Homo sapiens: one gene and its partners. The protein of the gene in region 3 interacts with the protein of the main gene of each other region in a biochemical or structural test. Each region holds a gene or a part of one and is shown on either strand. Other genes may lie near its edges.

Evidence for each region.
Region 1: the proteins of AKAP13 (region 3) and PRKD1 form a complex in vitro, tested with the Homo sapiens proteins (one study listed by BioGRID).
Region 2: the proteins of AKAP13 (region 3) and RTKN form a complex in vitro, tested with the Homo sapiens proteins (one study listed by BioGRID).

What each region holds. Positions count from the first base shown.
Region 1 is NC_000014.9:29,917,811-29,924,921, forward strand, and holds part of PRKD1 (serine/threonine-protein kinase D1), read right to left. Parts: intron 1-7,111.
Region 2 is NC_000002.12:74,438,926-74,445,974, reverse strand, and holds the start of RTKN (rhotekin), read left to right. Parts: upstream 1-4,037; 5' UTR 4,038-4,158; coding exon 4,159-4,269; intron 4,270-5,391; exon of another isoform or gene 5,392-6,352; coding exon of another isoform or gene 6,353-6,424; intron 6,425-7,049. UniProt on the Homo sapiens protein: Mediates Rho signaling to activate NF-kappa-B and may confer increased resistance to apoptosis to cells in gastric tumorigenesis. May play a novel role in the organization of septin structures.
Region 3 is NC_000015.10:85,383,535-85,390,645, forward strand, and holds part of AKAP13 (A-kinase anchor protein 13), read left to right. Parts: intron 1-141; exon of another isoform or gene 142-201; intron 202-528; exon of another isoform or gene 529-576; intron 577-672; exon of another isoform or gene 673-863; intron 864-7,111. UniProt on the Homo sapiens protein: Scaffold protein that plays an important role in assembling signaling complexes downstream of several types of G protein-coupled receptors.

The DNA of each region.
Region 1 (7,111 bases), on a different chromosome or scaffold from region 3:
AAAATAAAACATAACGCAATAGGATCCTTACTTGGACTGATGAAAAAAATGTGCTATGAACTGAAGAGTATGATTATAGCAAATCTACATACCTGTAGATAATTTTTTAAGTAAAAAATAGATTTTTTTAACTTTTATTTTAGTTTCTGGGGTACATGTACGGTTTTGTTACATAGGTAAACTTGTGTCATGGGGGGGCTGTACAGATTATTTTGTCACCCAGGTACTAAGCCTAGTACCCCAAAATTGATTTTTTCAAAGCAGGAAATATATTGCCTGATTGTAGATTTTAAATGTTCTCACCACACACACAAGAAAAGATAAGTCTGTGAGATGATGGACATGTTAATTAGCTTGATTTAATCACTGCACAATGTATACATGTACCAAAACATTATATATCATAGTATATATAATTTTTATTAGTAAATTATACCTTAATAATGCTGGGGAGGGAGAAAGAATCTTGTAGGATCACCTGCAGTGTTACAAAGGGAACTCAACGTGAGACAGGTAATTCAAACAGTCAGAACTATGAAAATATCAAATAGTAATTTACAAAAATGTAAAAGAAAAACACTTATTATGACCCCAATGACACCAAAAATATGTACCATATGTACAATTTGATTAGGAAGCTTCTGAATATATTTTCAGATGGTGCTAACCATTAGATCTCAATGTTCACCTGCTCACAGTAGCTGAAATACTTGCCGTAACACAAGTGGTGACCCTTTAATCTAATGTTCCACTTTTCTGGCCTTTTCAATTTACCACTTGACTCTTTATTTCTAGTTTTTAACTGCCCCTTCAGTCCTCTCCTCCCCAATCTCTCTGACTGTACAAGACATTGTGTGAAATAATGTCAATACTTTTGCAAAAGCCTGTATAACATGCCACTCCTAACCAGAATTGCTATGGAATCAAACAAACTGAAAAATAAAAATGTTCATGATTACTGTGGATATTTACATAACTGCAAATAAGCAATCTCTTTAATCTTTTCACCCTACACTGAGCAATTGCTCAGGTTGAGAGAATCACCTAACTGTAAGAACACTGAGTGTAGGAAAAAATCAAACTAATTATCAACAACACCATATATTATGCACATTCATACTTTTCATTCATATTTTCATTACTAAATTAATACTTTTCAACTGTTTTATAATATATGCGGGGAAAAGTGGCTGCTGACAATTAAGGAGAGAAGCATTCAGAAATTCCTGAAATTGTGCCTAAAAACAAGCAATACATTCACTAGTTCCTCATCAATCAGTGGTTTAGTCAGAATAGATGCCAATGAACTAGTGAAGGGTGTATATTTTTTTCCTTTTCACCAAAATAAGTTGAACAAAATTCCTGTGTGATTGCATATTTTAAAATCTAAGTTTCATGTTTGCCAACATTGCTAAGCTACTATATCAATTGTCTGGCTTAAGCCAAATAAAACCTTTCATAACTTTGGAAGAAACTTCTACACAGGAAACTGTAGATTTAGACAGCCGAAATTTGTCTGAATATGCATTGTTTTTGTACCAGTTCTTAACTATTTAAATTATATGATATTCCATAACAGCCATAGTGGCCATATAATTGAACACTCTGTATATTTAATGATCTGTTTTTCTAGATGAGACCAGAAAAAGTAAGAAACAGAACAACGTGAATTTCTCTGCTGCCAAATAACTTCAAGTGGTGCTATCACAACTGGTTTTTAATGGCACAAAAATATTTGGTTGACAGTATTAAAAGAATTCCTGTGGGAAATATCTCATATTCTTATAGATTAAAAAATGTTTTGAATAGTTGTAAGGAAAATCACCATTTTCTTTGTATCTAAATTCTATCAATAGAAAGAGGGAAATGAGGCTGAGCGCAGTGGCTCATACCTATAATCCTAGCACTTTGGAAGGCCGAAGCAGGTGGGTCATCACTTGAGCACAGGAGTTCAAGACCATCCTGGCAACATGGCAAAACTCTGTCTCTACTAAAAATACAGAAAATCATCCAGGCGTGGTGGCACATATCTGTAGTCTCAGCTACTCGGGAGGCTGAGGTGGGAGAATCACCTGAGCTTGGGAAGTTGAGGCTGCAGTGAGCTCAGACGGTGCCACTGCACTCCAGCCTGAGTGACTAAAGTGAGACCCTGAGAAAGAGAGAGAGAGAGAGAGAAAGAGAGGAAGGAAGGTAGGAAGGAAGGAGGGAAGGAAGGAAGGAAGGAAGGAAGGAAGGAAGGAAGGAAGGAAGGAAGGAAAGAAGGAAGGAAGGAAGGAGAAAAGAAAAGAGAAAAGGAAGAAAGGGGAGAAAGAAAAGAAAAGAGAGAAGAAAAGAAAAGGAAGGAAGGAAACAAGGAAGGAAGGAAGCACTTGTCTTGTTTTGTTCCAACATATTCCAACAATAAGGAAAGATTTAAGAAATTGAAGTCTCATTTTCAAAATCACTCTAAAGTAATGCTGGGGAAATTAAAAGATGAGTAGTATCTTTTATTATTAAAAAACACCCTATATTTTTACCTCTATTGCCACATTTGGGTTTAGATTTTTCACCTTAAACAAGGTGATGGCGCAAGGTCAGAGGTCAAAGATTACCCTGATACATAAATCAAAGCAAACAAATATAAAAACAAAGCAAGGAAGGAAACTTCATGTTACCATCAACACCTATAAGACTGCATTCTACCAAGTTCTAACAGTCTGAGTCCAGCCCTGCAATATTGATCATTATACTAGTTATTTGGTATAGTTTGAGAGCTTATTCAATGATTCCAGTCTAATACACACACACACACACACACACACACACACACACACACAAAGTTTCATATAATTATCCATTACACTCTTCTTTAAAAGATTTATAAATAATTAAAGATTGTGGTTTTCTAAAGGTTTTATAATGGGGCATGGACTTCCATGACAGATAAGTGGTAGGTAGTGGGAATATCTAAAAAAGACTTGTGATTGGTTTTGCCAAACTGATAACTCAATTGTTTCCCAGTAAATTTGCCTTCTCATCTCAAAATGACATTTCTGCATATGCACAACCAATTATGTTATATTAGCTATCATCAGATGGAACAATTTAGCAAACAACCTCTAGATGTTAGCATGACAGCAAATTGCAATCTCCCTACGTCATTTCCAAGCACCTTCCTTCTCATGTATCAAGCGATGATCTGCAAATAAGCTTTAAATTTTGGTCTTGAGAACCAGAATTTTGAATCATTGTGTTCCCAAATGTTGCACCTTTATCTATTTTATTTCCTTTTTAAAAAATGAAGTGAAATACCATTGACATTGCACTTGTAATTGAAAAGGAGTTAAATCATCTTTCTGTCAAAAATAATAAAAAGCAATGAAAATATGCTTTACTTTTATCAGCAAATGTGTCTTTCATTTAGTAATAATTAGATTAGTCCTTAAAGAATGCTGAGAGTTTGAGATTTGAGAAACTGTTTCAAAACATAACTACTTCTAAGATTTGCCCTGATACAGAGGGCAGGAAAAAGATGTCACCTGGGCCTTACAGCCATATTGCTTTTTTTAATATTATAATTTTAATTATATATTGATATAAGAATAAGATAATAAATATAAATTTCTTTTGTTAATAAGACAGTATGCTAGTCTATAGAGCTTTAAGCTTTAGTAAACAACAGCATTTATTATGCACGTATTTACAAAGCAGTATGTATGTTACATATATTGTCTTTAAATCTCAAAGTAATCTTAGATAAGTCACAAATATACATTCATTGACTTACAAATGTTCTGCATTCTCTAGTAAGGTCAGTAACAGTTATTCATGAATAAATTAGTGAAGACTTATATACAATCATCTCACAAAAAAAGGTAATAATCATTAGAAAATAAAGTTATAAATCTCCCATAAAAGCTATGATAGGAATCTGGTGAAAATAAACAGCACAGTCATGAAGTATGGTCTTCTGGGGCAAGTTTTTAAACCTTATTCCAGTAACCCCCACCACCACCACCACCATACACAGTGTACTTTTACTCTTTCAGATTGATCTCAATTCTGAATCTAAAGGCCCAAATGAATTCATGTATTTATCAAATGAGCCAATCATCCAACTCTTCCCAGCCCATGGACTACAAGGCTTAATGGTTTTAACTTCACAGTCTCACAGGATATTCTTGTGAAAACTGTCAAATAGTACATACCTGTTTTAAAAAGGTTTATAAGTCTGTGAATTGATAGAAAAATATAAAGCAGAGTTTCTCTTGGGAGGCCAAGGCGGGCGGATTACGAGGTCAGGAGATCGAGACCATCCTGGATAACACGGTGAAACCCCATCTCTACTAAAAATACAAAAAAATAGCAGTGCATGGTGGCAGGCGCCTGTAGTCCCAGCTACTTGGAAGGCTGAGGCAGGAGAATGCTGTGAACCCAGGAGGCAGAGTTTGCAGTGAGCCGAGATTGCACCACTGCACTCCAGCCTGGGCAACAGAGCGAGACTCCATCTCAAAAAAAAAAAAAAAGAAAAAGTAAAGAAAAAAAGAAAAATGTAAAGCAGAGTTTCTCTTTGGGATTGTGAGATATGTGATGAGGCCTCATTTTTTGCAGTCTATAACACAAAATATAAAACAATACTTCACATCTGGAGGCTATACAAGGATAAGGAAGCTCTTAAAAATATATTTAAAAAATAGTTAAACATAATCTACTACATATAAATTCCACATCTGTAATACATAATATACAGTTCCAAAATATAATCCTGTTACATTATTAAACTTGAAAAGAAATTTAAATTTTAAAAGTACAGGCAGGGCACAGTGGCTCATGCCTGCAATCCCAGCACTTTGGAAGGCTGAGGTGGGAGGATTGCTTGAGGCCAGGAAATCAATAACAGCCTGGGCAACACAGTGAGACATTGTCTGTATAAAAAAATTATAAAAATTAGTCAGATGTGGTGGCACACACTTGTAGTCCCAAACACTTGGGACGCTGTGGCAGGAGGATCACATTAGCCAAGACTTTGAGGCTGCAGTGAGCTATGATTATGTACTGTACTTGTAGTCTGGGCCTTATCTCAAAAAATAAAATAATAAAAATAAAATTAGAGTACTAAAATTATATTACTTAAGAATCACTTAATAGGCCAGGCCCAGTGGCTCACACCCAGTGGGATTCCTTAAATCCCAGCACTTTGGGAGGCCGAGGTAGGAGGACCTCTTGATCCCAGGAGTTCCAGACCAGCCTGGGCAATATGGCAAAATACCATCTCTACAAAAAATTTAAAAATTAGCCAGGCATGGTCACCCATACCTGTAGACCCAGCTACTCAAGGGGCTGAGGTGAGAGGATCACTTAAGCCTGGAGGCCAAGACTGCAGTGAGCTGTAATTGTGCTACTGCACTCCAGCCTGGGCAAGAGAGTGAGATTCTGTCAAAAAAAAAAAAAAAAAAACACACAGTAAAATGACAAATTCTATACTTCATCATTAAATCAGAAATCAGTAGACATATAATATAGCCAATTATAAAATTGGAATAAAAATATATACACCTAAGCCCCAAAGACCATCATTAGTTTAAAAGGAGTTTGTTGGTCCAGGTGAGTTGGATTGATCAAGCACCTAATTACTTTCGGCTTTCTCAATCTATGTGGAATGTGTGGAGTATCTAAAATTAGTAATAAAGAGAAAAATGACATCACAACTATTAAGAAAACAATGTATAATACAATTAAAGTGAAACAATTACAAGCAAAGTAATGCTACTTTCAAACCAAGGCACTAACCTTACTTCTTTAGTGAGCTATCTACTTAAAATCTCACTGTTAAATTTCTTTAGCCAAAAGATGATTCTGAAAAGTGAAACTATATGCCAGGAGTCTTATAAATGCTATTACTCCATTTAAGTACATTTAAGAGTAAAATATCAGTTGCCTTTCTAATAAGGTAATAACCAAAATGAACAATCATATTAATGGCATCAAGCATCCCTAAAGAGTAACACAGCTCATTTGAGGAAAAAAAAAAAAAAAAAAAAAGTATGTGTGTGTGTTTGTGTGTGTGGTAGATAAGTAGATGATGTACTATGAAACCAAACTAGCTCTTCCTCTGGAATTTTTTTCCTTGCTTTAAAACAATTCCTCCTCAGTCTACATATTCAAGGTTTCTTTGACAGTAGAAAGTAACAGTGTTTCAAAGTGAAGTCAATGATTGTTATTATTTTTTACCCTCCTGAAAACAATAACCATGTACACTAACAGAATACATATCTTTATATACAACCAGGCTTCAACGTCACACACTTGCAAACTAAATAAACAAACATAATGTAAATAAAACCCTGGATCAATACTTTCTAAAAAGAAAGAATAACATATTATATAGCCATACATTGTTACATACAAAAAAGCAAGACTAGATTTTTCACCTAAACTAGAAGATGAAAGAAATAATTCTTTACTTATATAAGTCAGTATATACTTAGGGTACGTTATCTTAAAATAAGTATTTTTTGTTGAATTACCATCACAATGTTTCAAGTACAATCGTGTCTGCTACATAATTAGAGAACAACTATACTCTAAATTCTAAATAATAACAATAATAATTTACAGGTGAGTTTCTCAGGGAAACTTATGCAGCCTTGTACACCTCAGTTGCTCATCCCAAAGGAAATGTCCTGTGATGTTACTGAAACTGTCAGCTAATATTTCCAATGCTCGTATGATCTATGTTAGTACTTAGGGAGCTCCTGAACAAAGTGAATGAAAAACTTCTTAACACATTTAAAACAACAGATGTGGAAGACTCAGAAAGATCAGGAGAACCTTCTGCTGTAAGTTCCACACGACTTCAGCCCACATAGTAAATTGTAAATGATTTCAAACCCTCTGCTCTCTCCTGAAACATCCAATCCCCAAACTCCTGTCATCCTTCCTCATAGCTGACGTCCTCATAAGGTACTTCCAAAAAAAAACTGAAATAAAAGACAAAAGAACTCCCTCCCACTTCCTTAACTCCACACTGACACTCTGCCATTCCTACTGTCACAACACACAGAGATCCTGTATCCTGTGATGGACCTTCAGCTCTCTTAATTTTGTTTCTGCTGGGATAATAATATATTCT
Region 2 (7,049 bases), on a different chromosome or scaffold from region 3:
AATCCATAGAAATTTTGACCCTTATCTCTCCTCCCTCAGTTGAGTGCAGTGTTAGTTGGCTTCCCTGACTCCAGTCACAACTCCTCCAACTGACTAATGGAAAAGGCTGCCAAATTACGATCTCTAAAGTTAATTCTGGGAGGAGGAACAGTGGTCACGCCTGTAATCCCAGAACTTTGGGAGGCTGAGGCAGGAGGATCACTTAAGGCCAGGAGTTCAAGACTAGCCTGTACGATGCTGTCTCTACAAAAAAATTTAAAAATTAGCCTCGCATGGTGGTGCACGCCTTTAGTCCTAGCTACTCAGGAGGCTGAGACAGGAGGATTGCTTGAGCCCAGGAGTTCAAGGCTGCAGTGTATTATCATGGCACCACTTTGCTCTAGCTGGGTAACAGAGTGATATATATTATATAAATATATATATATAATATAATATAATATAATCCTGATCATGTCCCTCCTTCCCAAAAATCTTCAGCCACATTGAGTACAAACTCTCAGGCAGGATTTGAGCTCAACCTCCTTTTTGAAGATCCTCCATTCCTCTGCCTCCTTCCTGGGTCTCAGGCCAGGGGTTTTCAAACCCGTCCACAGAGCTTGTGTTCACTGGGGGAGCAGGGAGCAGCTGAGCACCTGTGGGTAGACAAGGCATGAGGCTCTAGCACCTGCTCCCATCATAGCAGCTCTGATTTGATTTCACACATTTCAGGTAAGATTTCATTAAAAAAAAAAGGTTCTGTTGCTTAAAAACAAACATTTGAAATGAACTATCTTAGTCCAACAGGATGGCACATCTCAGTCAAGGACTCTCAAATCTGTTTGCTTCTCTTTTATTTACTTCAACTGATGTTTATTGATCACTTGCTATGTCCCAGGCACTGGGGATAAGACAGACTGCCCCTCCCTAGAAGGCTTACAGTTCAGAGGAGTGATGATGAATATTTGAATAAATTAAGGAACAATATCTTTCCCTTTCTTTCCCCTCACACGTCTTTTGTGGTTAATCTCAGATGCCATGGACTTTATAAATCTTTTGATCTGCCTTTCCTACTGACCAGAAGAACTCCCTTCTCCATATAAAATTTTGTGTGTGGAGGATGTTGGTTGTTTTTCCTGTTCATTTTCCATTCTCTCACCTTCTGGTGGTAGTGGTTGGAACATTCTTTGGGGAACAACCCTCCCCCACCTTCTCCCTCCCAGTTCACTGGGTTCTGGTTAGTCTCCAGGAGTGGGCAAGTGACCCCAAGCCTGGCCAGCTGGCACCTAGAACCTCCTTAGCCACAGCAATTGGTTCAGATCTGGCCACCGTCTGACTCCAATGATTGGTTTGGGATGGATGAATGATCACAAATGTCTCACAGCGAATCCCAGACGTGTAGGAGCCTCAGGAAACAGATGCTCTCTTTTCAGCTGAATTTAAGCCTGAAAAGATATAGACCCAGAATTTTGGGCAGCAATTTCGTTACACTGTGGAGAGTGAAGCCAACGTGGAGGAAAGTAGAGCCAAGTGATGGGAAGAGACTGGATATTCCTGACACTCAATGAGTGGGTTAAGCCACATCTAAAGCTTGACCCCTGGCTCATTTGTTTGTATTGGCTCAGTTCCAGGAGCCGATGCATTTCCCCTTTTGCTTTAGTACTTTTCAGTCAGCTTTTCCAAAAGAATGTTGAAATGATTTGCCATAGCAAAACATTTCTAATCTGGACTCTCTAAGAGCTCAAGACTGGTATGTCTCTGGGTCCAGCCAGCCTGCCATGTAGGAGTCTCACCCTTTCTCAAGTTCTGTGTTCTGAAGCCTTCAGGAGATCTGTTTATGTGTGATCAGCAAGTTAATCCTTTGCCATTTCCTTCTCTTCCACTGGGCTTTCCCCAGAGGGGGCAAGAAGGGAACCCTGTTTTTTGTTTGTTTGTTTGTTTGTTTGAGACAGAGTCTCGCTCTGTCGCCCAGGCTGGAGTGCAGTGGCACGATCTCGGCTCAGTGCAAGCTCCGCCTCCCAGGTTCAGGGCATTCTCCTGCCTCAGCCTCCTGAGTAGCTGGGACTACAGGCGCCCGCCACCATGCCCGGCTAATTTTTTTGTATATTTAGTAGAGACGGGTTTTCACCGTGTTAGCCAGGATGGTTTCGATCTCCTGACCTCGTGATCTGCCCCCCTTGGTCTCCCAAAGTGCTGGGATTACAGGCGTGAGCCACCGCGCCTAGCGGGAACCCTGTTTTTATGGAAGCAGGGAGTGGTAAGTCCAGCCGGGCAAGTCCAGCCATCCAGCAAAGCAGCTGATTATATCTATATCTATCTATATCTATATCTATATCTATATCTATATCTATATCTATATCTATATCTATATCTATATCTATCTATATCTATATCTATCTATAGATAGATAATATTGGCCAGGCGTGGGCCACGCCTGAAATCCCAGCACTTTGGGAGACCAAGGCGGGTGTATCGCCTGAGGTCAAGAGTTTGAGACCAGCCTTACCAACATGGTGTAACCCCATCTCTACTAAAAATACAAAAATTAGCCAGATATGGTGGCAGACGCCTGTAATCCCAGCTACTCCGGAGGCTGAGGCAGGAGAATCGATTGAACCCAGGAGGCAGAGGTTGCAGTGAGTCGAGATCATGCCATTGCACTCCAGCCTGGGTGACAGAGTGAGACTCTGTCTTAAAAAAAAAAAATTAAAATAAATAAATAAATAAATAAATAAAAATAAAAAATTATACATATTTGTAATGCTTTTTAAGAGATGGGGTCCCACTATGTTGCCCAGGCTGGACTTGAACTTTCGGGCTCAAGCAATCCTCCCACCTTAGCCTCCCGAGTAGCTGGGACTACAGGTGTGCACCACCATGCCAGGCCAATTTGTGTGTGTGTGTGCGTGTGTGTGTGTGTTTTGTTGAGACAGGGTTTCATGTTGCCCAGGCTGGTCTCCAACTCCTGAGCTCAAGAGCGATCAGTCCCCCTTGGCCTCCCAAAGTGCTAGGATTACAGGCTTGAGCCACTGCACCCAGCCATCTTTTTTTTAGACGTAGTTTCGCTCTTGTTTCCAAGGGTGGAGTGCAATGGTGGGGTCTCAGCTCACCACAACCTCTGCTTCCCGGGTTTAAGCGATTCTCCTGCCTCAGCCTCTCAAGTAGTTGGGATTACCGGCATGTGCCACCATGGCCGGCTAAATTTTGTATTTTTAGTAGAGATGGGGTTTCTCCATGTTGGTCAGGCTGGTCTCGAACTCCCAACCTCAGGTGATCCACCCTCCTAGGCCTCCCAAAGTGCTGCGATTACAGGCGTGAGCCACCGCGCGCAGCTGCTCTTTATGACTGCAAATATGGGGCACTTGCCTTGTGCCAGGCACTATGCTGGGCATTTTACCCTCATTCTTATAGGTAATCCTCATAGCAACTTGAGGAGTGGAGATAATTACAGTATTCCCACTGAACAAATGAGAAAACTGAAGCTCAGAAAGGCCAGTGACTGGACCAAGTTAATGATTGCACGGTTAGTTAGTGACAGAGCTGGGGTTTCACGACGTGTTTAAGCACCGCCCCATCAGTTGTGGCCACTAGGCTTAGGCGGATAGCCTCGCAGAGGAGCCTAGGTGGGGAGGGGGACGAAGAAGGAACATTTGGGACTGTGGGATGTTGAAATGGTCTCTTCGGAGGCTGCCGGGATTGAAACTGGGCAAGGTCCCAGGGCCCGAGTAGAGCCAGAGCGTGCTACGCGGCGATCCCTGAGCCACGGGGTTTTCAGCGCCCGGGAAGCCAGGCTTGCCAGGTTGGGGCGGCTGGCGGGGCAGGGCTTCTCGGTCCGTCCCAAGTCCAGGTAGGCGCTCGCGACCCGCGCGGGCAGGGAGAACGCGCTCCCACAGTGCTCGCGAGGTGCAGTGCGCCCCTGGGGGCTCCGGGGCCGTCGGGCCAGGTCGGCTTGGCGCCCAGGGACTGGCCGGACGGGCTGGGCCTTTGGCGGGGGTGGAAGAGGAGGTTGCCGCGCCCTGCCCGGCCCAGGTGTCGTCTCCGGGGGCGGGGTTTGGAGCCCCGCAGCGGGAGATTCCCGGCCGGACTGGCGGACGAGCGTCGAGAGACAGAAGCCGAGGAGAGGAGGCTAAGCCGGGCGGCGCGGGGAGCGCACTGAGCAGGCAAAGTCGCAGGGCCGCCAGCATGTTCTCCCGAAACCACCGGAGCCGGGTCACCGTGGCCAGGGGCTCCGCCCTGGAGATGGAGTTCAAACGCGGCCGCTTCCGACTCAGCCTCTTCAGCGACCTGCCCGAGGTGAGAGACTCGCGTCCCTGCCTTCCCCTTCCGCGGCTCCCGGGGGCAGCCCCAGCCACCTCGGCCTCCTTCCCTCGCCCGCGTGCACGCCGAGGGGCGGAGACGCACGGTCTGGGTACAAACCCGACGGAGTTGTTGACTTAAAAAGTAAGGTGTGGACGGTCTGCATTTTCATCGGATCCATGCTGCCCATTCCGCGGCCTGGTTAGGATTATCTGCCTGAGCCTGGAAAAAGCCCGGGTTGGTCTCAATTTGTAGGGCCCCAGCTCGACTCCTAAAATGTGCCTGAACCCCAAAATGTCTTGGGCATCCCCGGGCCAAGGGCGGTGGGCAGCTAGGCGGGCCCCAAGCGCTCGGACTCTTGGCCTGGGCTCCCGCTTGTTCCCCAGTCGCCAGCCCCATCCCACAACCTGTCGCAGCCATCTGGGCCAGCCTCTGTCATCAACCCCGACTTTAGGCCGGGGCCGCTCGCTTCCCCGAAGCCCAATTCAAAGGCTCCTCTATGCCCCTGCAGGGCTTTTAACTCCTTGGGGTTACTTCCCACACGCAAAATTTCCGCCTCCTTTTCTGGGGCCTAAGAGGAGTCCAGCCCCTAGGCTGAGCGTTTCCCCCGTCCGCCGTCCACGCGTTAACCTGTTGGATCCCCACCTGTAACGCCCTAAGGGCTAGGGCGGGGCTGAAGGTGTGTGGTTGAGCGGGGACTGAGAGGGCGAATAGCTACCCCGAAGACTCTTCTGTCCCCAAGGTCAGACTCACACTCGCCCAAGGAGAGCCCAGTTCCAAGCCTTCCCTTCCGGGTCTGGAAAGGGTTAAGTGAGGTGGGCCTTCCTTCCGCCCCCTCTACCTCCCGGCTGGGATTCCAGGCCTGGCTTCTGCCCTTTCCCTCCAGCCTGCCCAGAACAAAGAGGCTCTTTCACACCCTTGTCCCGGCGTCCCGGGCCTTCTCTGACTCAGAAGCTAGTGGACCTGGGGAGAGGGGGCCTTTGTCGCGTCCCCTTGCCCCCAAGCGACTGGGCCCGAGGAACCCGCGTGGGGCCAGCGTGGGGGAGTAAGGGGCGAGGCCCGGGACCAGGGGGAGGGGCCTGTGAGCTGGGGCCGCCCCTGGGATTAGCCCGGCCTTCGGGGACAGCTCGGAGGAGCTGGGGCGGAGCCGCAGGGCCTGGCGGCCGCCGAGTGAAGTGTGACTCCGTGGGCCTGGCGTGGAGGCGGGGGCGCTAGGCTGCAGCTGGCTCGGAATCGGGGCTGGTTTCCTGTCTGGAAGGGAAGGGGCCTGCAGAAGGGAGCGGGGACAGCAGCAGACAGGCACACCCCTGCCTTCCTCTCTCCCTCTCCTCCCTTCTCTGGAAAAGCGAGGTAATTGTGAGCCCAGGGTGGAGCGGGCTGGATGGGGGCCCTGAGTTGGAAGGGGTGGCCCTAGGGCTGGGCTGCTTTGCCAACTCACCCCTTTGTCCCATTCCCTGGGCTCACTCTCCCCTGAGGTCCTCACCTGTGTGGCTCTTTTTCCCAACTTTCTCAAACTAAGCTGGAACCCCTCTCGGGAAGCTCCAACCTCCTGCAAACCCCATGACTCTAGAACCTGCATGAGGCGTCGTTTCCCTGCCCCCTTCCAGTTGTGCCTGCCCCTCACTGCCCTCTCCGCACACAGATTCCCTGTCCACCAGGCCAGGGATGTGGGCGGGGGCTGGGGAGCGGCCAGAGTCGGAATGAAAGGGCCTTTTTCTTCCACAGCTGGGAGAACAGCTGCCACCAAAGCGAGACTGGACACTCTGTGCCTAGAGCCCCCTCTGCAGCTGGCCTTTCCTCCTGGGACCCCACTTATCCTCACTTCGCTTTCTTTTTCTTCCCTGCCTGGCTCCCGGCAGGGCCCCGGAGCAGCAGTGGGCGAGGAAAATTTGTCACAGCAGCCAGAGGGGTTTAACAGGAGTGCAGAGGGATAAGGGCAGCTTCTGCCCTCTGCCCAAGAGCTGGCCACCTCTTTAAAGACTGAGGGAACAGTGGGAGGAGGAACTGTGGGACAGTGTGGTACCTATCTGTCCCCCCTCTGGAGGGGTTGACAAGGGAAAGGGCACCGGGGGGCACAGAGATGCAGGACAGATTGCACATCCTGGAGGACCTGAATATGCTCTACATTCGGCAGATGGCACTCAGCCTGGAGGTAATCCCCCGACCCTTGGAGTACACACCTCCTTCACTTGCATCCCAGCCCCAATCTCTGCCCTGCCCATTCCTGCTACAGCATGGTGGGGAGAGCCAGGCCTGCTTAAAGTGGGAAGAGGGACAGGTGGTTCCCTATGCCTTGTGTTGGGTGCAGTGTGTGGACCCAGGCTCAGTTCTGCCCATCATAGTCTTATGTTTGCAGCAGGGTCTTTACACCTATTTCAGGAAGCTCTGTGGGTGAGTGTAAATGTCTGTTCTGGGGACAAGGGTTCCTTTTAGGCATGGGAAGAAGAGAGGAGTTCAATGTGAGAGAGGTTTACAGAAAGGATGTAGCCTTGCTAGAGAAGAGAAGGACTCTGGGCTATGAGTAAGGATTCTGCTGGCCCTTGAGACAGCAAGGTGCTGTTTATTCGTGTATTTGTTTTTTTCAATTCTTTACAGAGACGAGGTCTCACTATATTGCCCAGGCTGGTCCTGGCTCAAGTGATCTCCCTACCTCGACCTCCCAAAATGCCGAGATTACAGGCGTGAGCCACTGCACCTTGCGCTATGTATTATTAAACACATGTAAATTTTATGTACTATCTGCCAAGCTCTTTTCGACCATAGGATACCTCAGTGAA
Region 3 (7,111 bases):
GTAGAGGTTTAGCTATTTCTTTCATAAAGAAGGGGCCTTGAGACTTGTGAGTCTTATCGAAGTCTATTTCTTCAAAGGTGCCAGATGAACTGAAGGATAATGGAAACAATAGCGAGTTTATCTTCTCAGTCACCTGTGAGTCTTCCTTTGAGAGTGGGACTTGCAGAGTGGCTTGGTAGGGTAGAGCTCTTTGTGACTATGCTATTTGGGCAACAGTGAGAGATGGATTGTTTTCAGTACATCAGTCATAAGAGGATATGAGTTCCAACTTTATTTTACCTTAGTCTTGGCAAATAAGTGTGGATTGTGTCTGTATTTCTCAAACTTGTTTAAGGTAGAGCTGGACTGGGTGTTAACAGTGTTAGTTCAGTACAGAGACATGAGCAAATCACTCACTTCCTCTTCAAGATAACACTTTAAAGGTGACACCATTTACAGAAGAAGGCAGTGATTTAAATCAGTTATACTAGCATAGTTTAGAATACTTACACTACCTAGATGGAGTAGATACATTCTAGAAATATTTACCTGTTAAGGACATTTCTTTAGATTTTATTCCATCTTTCCATTAGTTTTCTGATGAAGAGATTATAGTAAACCTTTAAAAATTATATTTGATCAAACTTACAGATTGAGGATAAACCTTTAAAAATTACAGTTGGTCACACTTACAGATTGAGGGTAAAAACATTCCTGACAAAGCTAGGCGAAGAAAGTTGGACTTTTGATGTTCCCTTCTTTTAAAGTTAACATCTGGCACTTGAATAGACTTGGTTATTACTGATGGGGACAGGCATCCATTTGGAAGTAGCTTCCCTCTCTCTTTCCCAGGTTAGGCTGTCTTACTGCTGTAAATGGGGAGAGACGAGAAAGCTGTGGGTGGAAGAAAGTTTGTTTCATAGCCTGGCGCAGTGGCTCACGCCTGTAATCCCAGCACTTTGGGAGGCTGAGGCGGGCGGATCACTTGAGGTCAGGAGTTCAAGACCAGCCTGGCCAACATGGTGAAACCACATCTCTACTAAAAATACAAAAACTAGCCCGGCAGGGTGGCAGGTGCCTGTAATCCCAGCTACTTGGGAGGCTGAGGCAGGAGAATCGCTTGAACCCGGGAGGTGGAGGTTGCAATGAGCCGAGATCATGCCACTGTGCTCCAGTCTGGGCGACAGAGCGAGACTCCGTCTGAAAAAAAAAAAAAAAAAGGTTTGTTTCATGCATCTGTCCTCACTGGTCAGTGGAAGAAAGTTTGTTTCCTGCGTTTGTCCTCATATTTATAGTTTTCTCGTCCACCTACAAGTTGATTGTGACGTTATGAATAGAAGATGAATGGATAATGTGTTTTTGTCAGACCTTGCTGTAAGGATGGACCTGGTACTGAAATACCGTGATTGTATGAACATTTGTGTGGGGCAATGCTGTGTTCAGTGCCTGGGGAATGTGGATATCAGTGTGTTTGTATGATATGGGTGCTAGTATGGGAGAGAAGGAAAACGTGTGAGGTTTTTGACCATTTATGTCACTCTGTAAGCTCTTCTCTGGCTACTTTGGTGCTATAGTAGCAGAGTTGAGTAGTTACAACAGAGACCATGTGATCTGCAAAGCAGAAAATATTTACTATCTGGGCTTTTACAGAAGTTTGCTGACCCTTTTTCTACATAACCAACTGCAGTTATTCACAACAAGAAAGATTAACGTTAATTCTATAATATTATTCAATACCTATTCAACTTTCTCTATTTGTCTCCCAAATATCTTTTATAGTTGATTAAGAAAAATTTTGGACAGAGTAAAATTAAAGTTCACTCAGCACATCATTATGTCTCTTTAGTCTCTATTTTTTCATTCTTTAATTATTCATATGTATAGTTTACATTCACTAAAATTCCGCCATTTTAGTGTAACATTCTCTGAGTTTTGACAGGTGTATACATTCATATATCCACTGCTGCAAACAGGACAGTCCCTTCATCCTCCAGAATTCTTCTGAGCCCTTTTGTACTCAACCGGTTCTCTACCCCCAGACTCTGGAAATTGCTGATCTGTTTTCTGTCTCCATGGTTTTTTGCCTTTTCAAGAATGTTGTAAAAATGGAATCACACGGAATGTAGCCTTTTTATTCATTTGCCCAATGACTAATGATATTAAGTATCTTTTCATCTGATTATTTGTCATTCTTTGATGTCAATTCAAAATCTTTTGCTTAAAAAATGAGTTTTTGTATATACTTTGGAATCAAATACATGATTTGCAGATATTTTCTCCTAGTCTGTTTTTACTTGTCTTAATAATGTCTTTTTTTGTTTGTTTGTTTCGAGATGGAGTTTGGCTCTGTCACCTAGGCTGGAGTACAGTGGTGAGATCTTGGCTCACTGCAACGTCTGCCTCCTGGGTTCAAGTGATTCTCCTGCCTTAACCTCCCGAGTAGCTGGGATTACAGGCACACACCACCACACCCAGCTAATTTTTGTATTTTAGTAGAGATGGGGCTTTTCCATGTTGGCCAGGCTGATCTTGAACTCCTAACCTCAAGTGATCTGCCTGCCTCGGCCTCCCAAAGTGCTGGGATTACAGGCGCGAGCCACTGTGTCTGGCCTTCTTGTCTTAATAATGTCTTTTGAAGAGCAGAAGTTCTTAATTTTTATGATATCCAGTGTTTTTTTGTTTTTTTGTTTTTTCCCTGAGTGGATCATGCTTTTGGTATAATAGTTTAGAAATCTTTGCCTAACTTAAGAGCTCAAAGACTTTCCCCTATATTTCCTCCTACAAGTTATTATTTTTTTTTTTAGAGATGGAGTCTCACTCTGTCATCCAGGCTGGCGTGAGTGAGATCTTGTTCACTGGAATCTCCGCCTCCCGGGTTCAAGTGATTCTCCTGCCTCAGCCTCCTGAGTAGCTGGGATTACAGGCACCCACCACCATGCCTAATTTTTGTATTTTTACTAGTGATGGGGTTTCACCATGTTGACCAGGGTGGTCTGAACTCCTGACCTCAAGTGAGCCACCCACCGCAGCCTCCCAAAGTGCTGGGATTACAGGCGTGAGCTATTGTGCCCGGCTCGCCTAGAAGTTTTATCATTTAAAATTTTATATTTACATTTATTATCTGCTTTGATTTAATTTTCCTAAATGGTGCAAGGTATGCATTGAGTTTATTTTTTTGTGGATGGATTTACAATTTTTCCAGCAACAGTTTTTGAAAAGACTGTCCTTTCTCTGTTGATTACCTTTGTGCCTTTTTTTTTTTGCAAGTTGATCATAAATGTGTGGTTTTGTTTCTGGATTCTCTCTCCTATTCCATTGATCTGTGTCTTTCATTTCTCTATCACCTCACTGTTGATTACTGTCACCTTAGAGTAAGTTTTAAAATCAGGTAGTGTGAGTTATCTTATTATTTTTCAGAATTGTTTTTTGGGTATTTTAGTTGCATTGCCTTTTGTGCATATTTTAGATTCATCTTGCTGTTATCCACAAGTCCTGCTGGGTTTTTCTTTTTCTTTTTTTTCTTTTTTAAGATGAGGTCTCAGCCGGGTGTGGTGGCTCACGCCTGTAATCCTAGCACTTTGGAGGCTGAGGCGGGTGGATCACCTGAGATCAGGAGTTCGAGACCAGCCTGGCTGACATGGCAAAACCCCGTCTCTACTAAAAAATACAAAAAATAGCTGGGCGTGGTGGTGGGCGCCTGTAATCCCAGCTACTTGGGAGGCTGAGACAGGAGAATTGCTTTAGCCCGGGAGATGGAGGTTACAGTGAGCCGACATTGCGCCACTTTACTCCAGCCTGGGTGATAGAACGAGAGTCCGTCTTAAAAAAACAAAAAAAGATAGGGTCTCACTCAGTTGTCCAGTGTGGAATGCAGTGGTAGGATAACCACTCACTGCAGCCTTGATCTCCTGGGCCCAAGCGATTCTCCCACGTCAGCCTCCCAAGTAGTTGGGATCACAGTCATGCACTACCTGGCTAATTTTTTTATTTTTGTAGAGACAGAGTCTCTCTATGTTGCCCAGGCTGGCCTCAAACTCCCGGGATGAAGTGATCCTCCCACTGTGGCCTCCCAAAGTGTAGGGATTACAGGCATGACCCACCATGCCCAGCCTGCTGTGGTTTTTGATTGGCATTGTGTTGAAGCTGGAAATCAGTTAGGGGGCAATTGACATTTTAATAATGAGCCATGAACATGGTATATCTATTTAGACCTTAGATTTTTGATTAGTGTTTTGTAGTTTTTAGCAATTGGATCTTGCATGTGTTTTGTAATCTTATACATGTATTTCATGTATTCTGGTGTTGTTGTGAATGATACTTCTCAATTTCCAGTTGCTCATTGCTGGTATATAGAAAGATCATTTTATATTATTTGCTGACCTTGGATCCTACACCCTTGCTAAACTCATTTTTAGTAATAGAAGCTTTTTTTGTAGATTTTTGGAATTTTCTGCATAGACATTATTGTCATTGGCAAATAAGGGCAGTTTGATTTCTTCGTTTTCACTTTGTATACTTTCATTTCCTTTTTTTTTTTTTGAGATAGAGACTCGCTCTGTCACCCAGGCTGGAGTGCAGTGGTGCGATCTCAGCTCACTGCAACCTGTGGCCCCCCAGGTTCAAGTGATTCTCGTGCCTCAGCCTCCTAAGTAGCTGGGATTACAGGTGCATGTTGTCATGCCCGGCTAATTTTTGTATTTTTTTTTTTTTAAGTGGAGACTGGGTTTCACCATGTTGGCCAGGCTGGTCTCAAACTCCTGACCACAAGTGATCCGCCAGCCTCAGCCTCCCAAAGTGCTAGGATTACAGGCGTGAGCTACAGCGCTGGGCGTGATTTCTTTTTGTTACTTTGCTGAACTATCTAGGACCCTCAGTGTAATGTGTAATAGGAGTTTTACAAGTGGACATCCTTTCCTTTTTCCTGATGTTAGAGGGGAAAACACTGAGTGTTTGACCATTAATATGATGGTAGCCATAGGTGTTTGTTTTTGTAGATGTCTTTTATCAAGTTGAGGAAATTGTCTTCTATGTTTAGTTTGCTGAGAGTTTTTATCATGAATAGATATTGAATGTTGTCAAAGGTTTTTCTGTATTTATTGACATAATCATATGTTTTTTCTTCTTTAGTCTGGTGTAATACGTTGAAATAGCTTTGCATTCTTGTGATAATACTCATTTAGTCGTGATGTATTATTTTTTACATGTCTTTGGGTTCCATTTGCTACTGAATCTTTTTTTATTTCTTCCATTTGTTTCCCGTTATGTTCATTTTAAAAATAGGTTCTTGATCATATGTATAATATTCATGATAGTTGTTGAGTCCTTATCTGTTAAATGTCAGATGTCTCCTTGGGGGTAAAGTTATTTCAAACACAAGAACCATTGCTTTAAAGAGTATCATACTTTGTTTTGGCAAGTTAAGTTGCCAAACTTATGTGTGTAAGTTGCTTGTTACACCCCATTACTAAGGCATGAAGCTCCTGTAGTTTTCATTGAAGAATTGGGCTCTCCTTGAGGACTCTATTCTGGCAGTTGAGAACACAAATGTCTCCCAGCCCTGTGTGAACTTTGGAGATCATTTAGCTTACAGTTCCTGGGTGATTCTTTGCGTGCCCTCATGTATTTTTACAATATGCATGCTTGGCTTACTACTGGGTGTGAGACTCATGGGGCCTCTATGCTGATTTCTGGAGCTCCTTTTTCATACAGCTCCCTCCTCTTCTCTCGTACTCTGCAATTTTCAAACTCCTTAGCCTTCCCAAGCTATGTTTGTTTTCTAAACTTGACAAGGCTGTCATGTTGTGCTTGATCCTCCTCATTGCACCATGGTCTAGAAGGTACCTCCAGCCAGAAAGCTGGGGCGATTTTAGGGCTTATCTCATTTGTTCCCTTCTCTTTGGGACTGCAGTTCTGTGCTACCTGTTGTTCAGGCTCTAAAGGATGCTGCCTCATGCATTTTGTCCACTTTTCTAGTAGTTAGGGAGGATGCCAGGATAAATCTGGATCCAGTTACTCCGTCATGGTTAGCAGCTGAAGTCCTTTGGGTGAGTATGCTTTGTTGGTGGTTCTTAAAATTTCATTACAGGATTCTCAAAATCTTTGGGGGTATAAATAACAAAGAAGTATTTGTTGACTATCTTCTGACAGTAGCTCAGCCATTGCTTTGTGGGAAATACAAAACAATGTAGGTATCTTTTAGTTGAAGAGGCACATGGTACATACCTAAGATTAATCAAAGAAATGAATTGCTATGGTGATGAACAGAAAGAGAAGGATCACTATAATCTATTATTTTCTGTCCCCCCGTGGGGGAGTCTTCCAGTGAAAAGCAGAAAACCTGCTAGACAGATTCTAAAAGATCTGTAACACTTGTGATCTGGTGTTTTCATGTAGAAATGCTTGCTTTTGCGTTTTTGTTTCTTAGCATATATGCTTTATGTCGCAAGTTGTAGTGAGTCAGTGGGTAGAGTGCTGGCTCTTTCAGGTGCATTTGCTATTTATTTACTATGCAGCTTTAGGTAAGTTATTTGTCTCTGAAATCTAATCTTCTCTTTTCTCTTGGCAAATGGTTATATGACATACCTTGTAGGGTTGTTTGTTAATTTTTTCAAGTATCTTTTGTTTGTCAGGCACGGTTCTAGGTAATGGGAATTCAGTGACATCTGTAGTTGCTGCCGTTAATCTATATCCTATTGAGGGAAGTAGAAAATAAACGAGTGAACAAACAATTGCAGTCATGTCTGGTGGTGATGATTCTAGGAAGGATATGAAGAGTATTAGCAGAGATTGGGGAGGTCAGACAAGGCCTTACTGAGGAGGTGAGATTTGAACAGACCTGAAGAAAGTCAAGGGAGCAAGTCACATGAAGATTCAGAGGAAGTATGGAAGGAACATCAAGTGCAAAGGACCTGAGATGGGAGAATGAACAGGGAGCCTGGTGTGGCTGGAATGGGTGAGAAAGAGCGTGAGGAGATAAGGTTTGTATGTGTAGCCAGAGACCAGATCAAATAGGCTCTTAGGTATGGTGGGAAACAGCTGAAGGATTTGAGCAAGGCATGACAAGGTTGATTTAGGCTTTAAAAACTTTACTCTTGGCATAGGGAGCAGTAGTGGAAACGGAGAGACTAGTTAA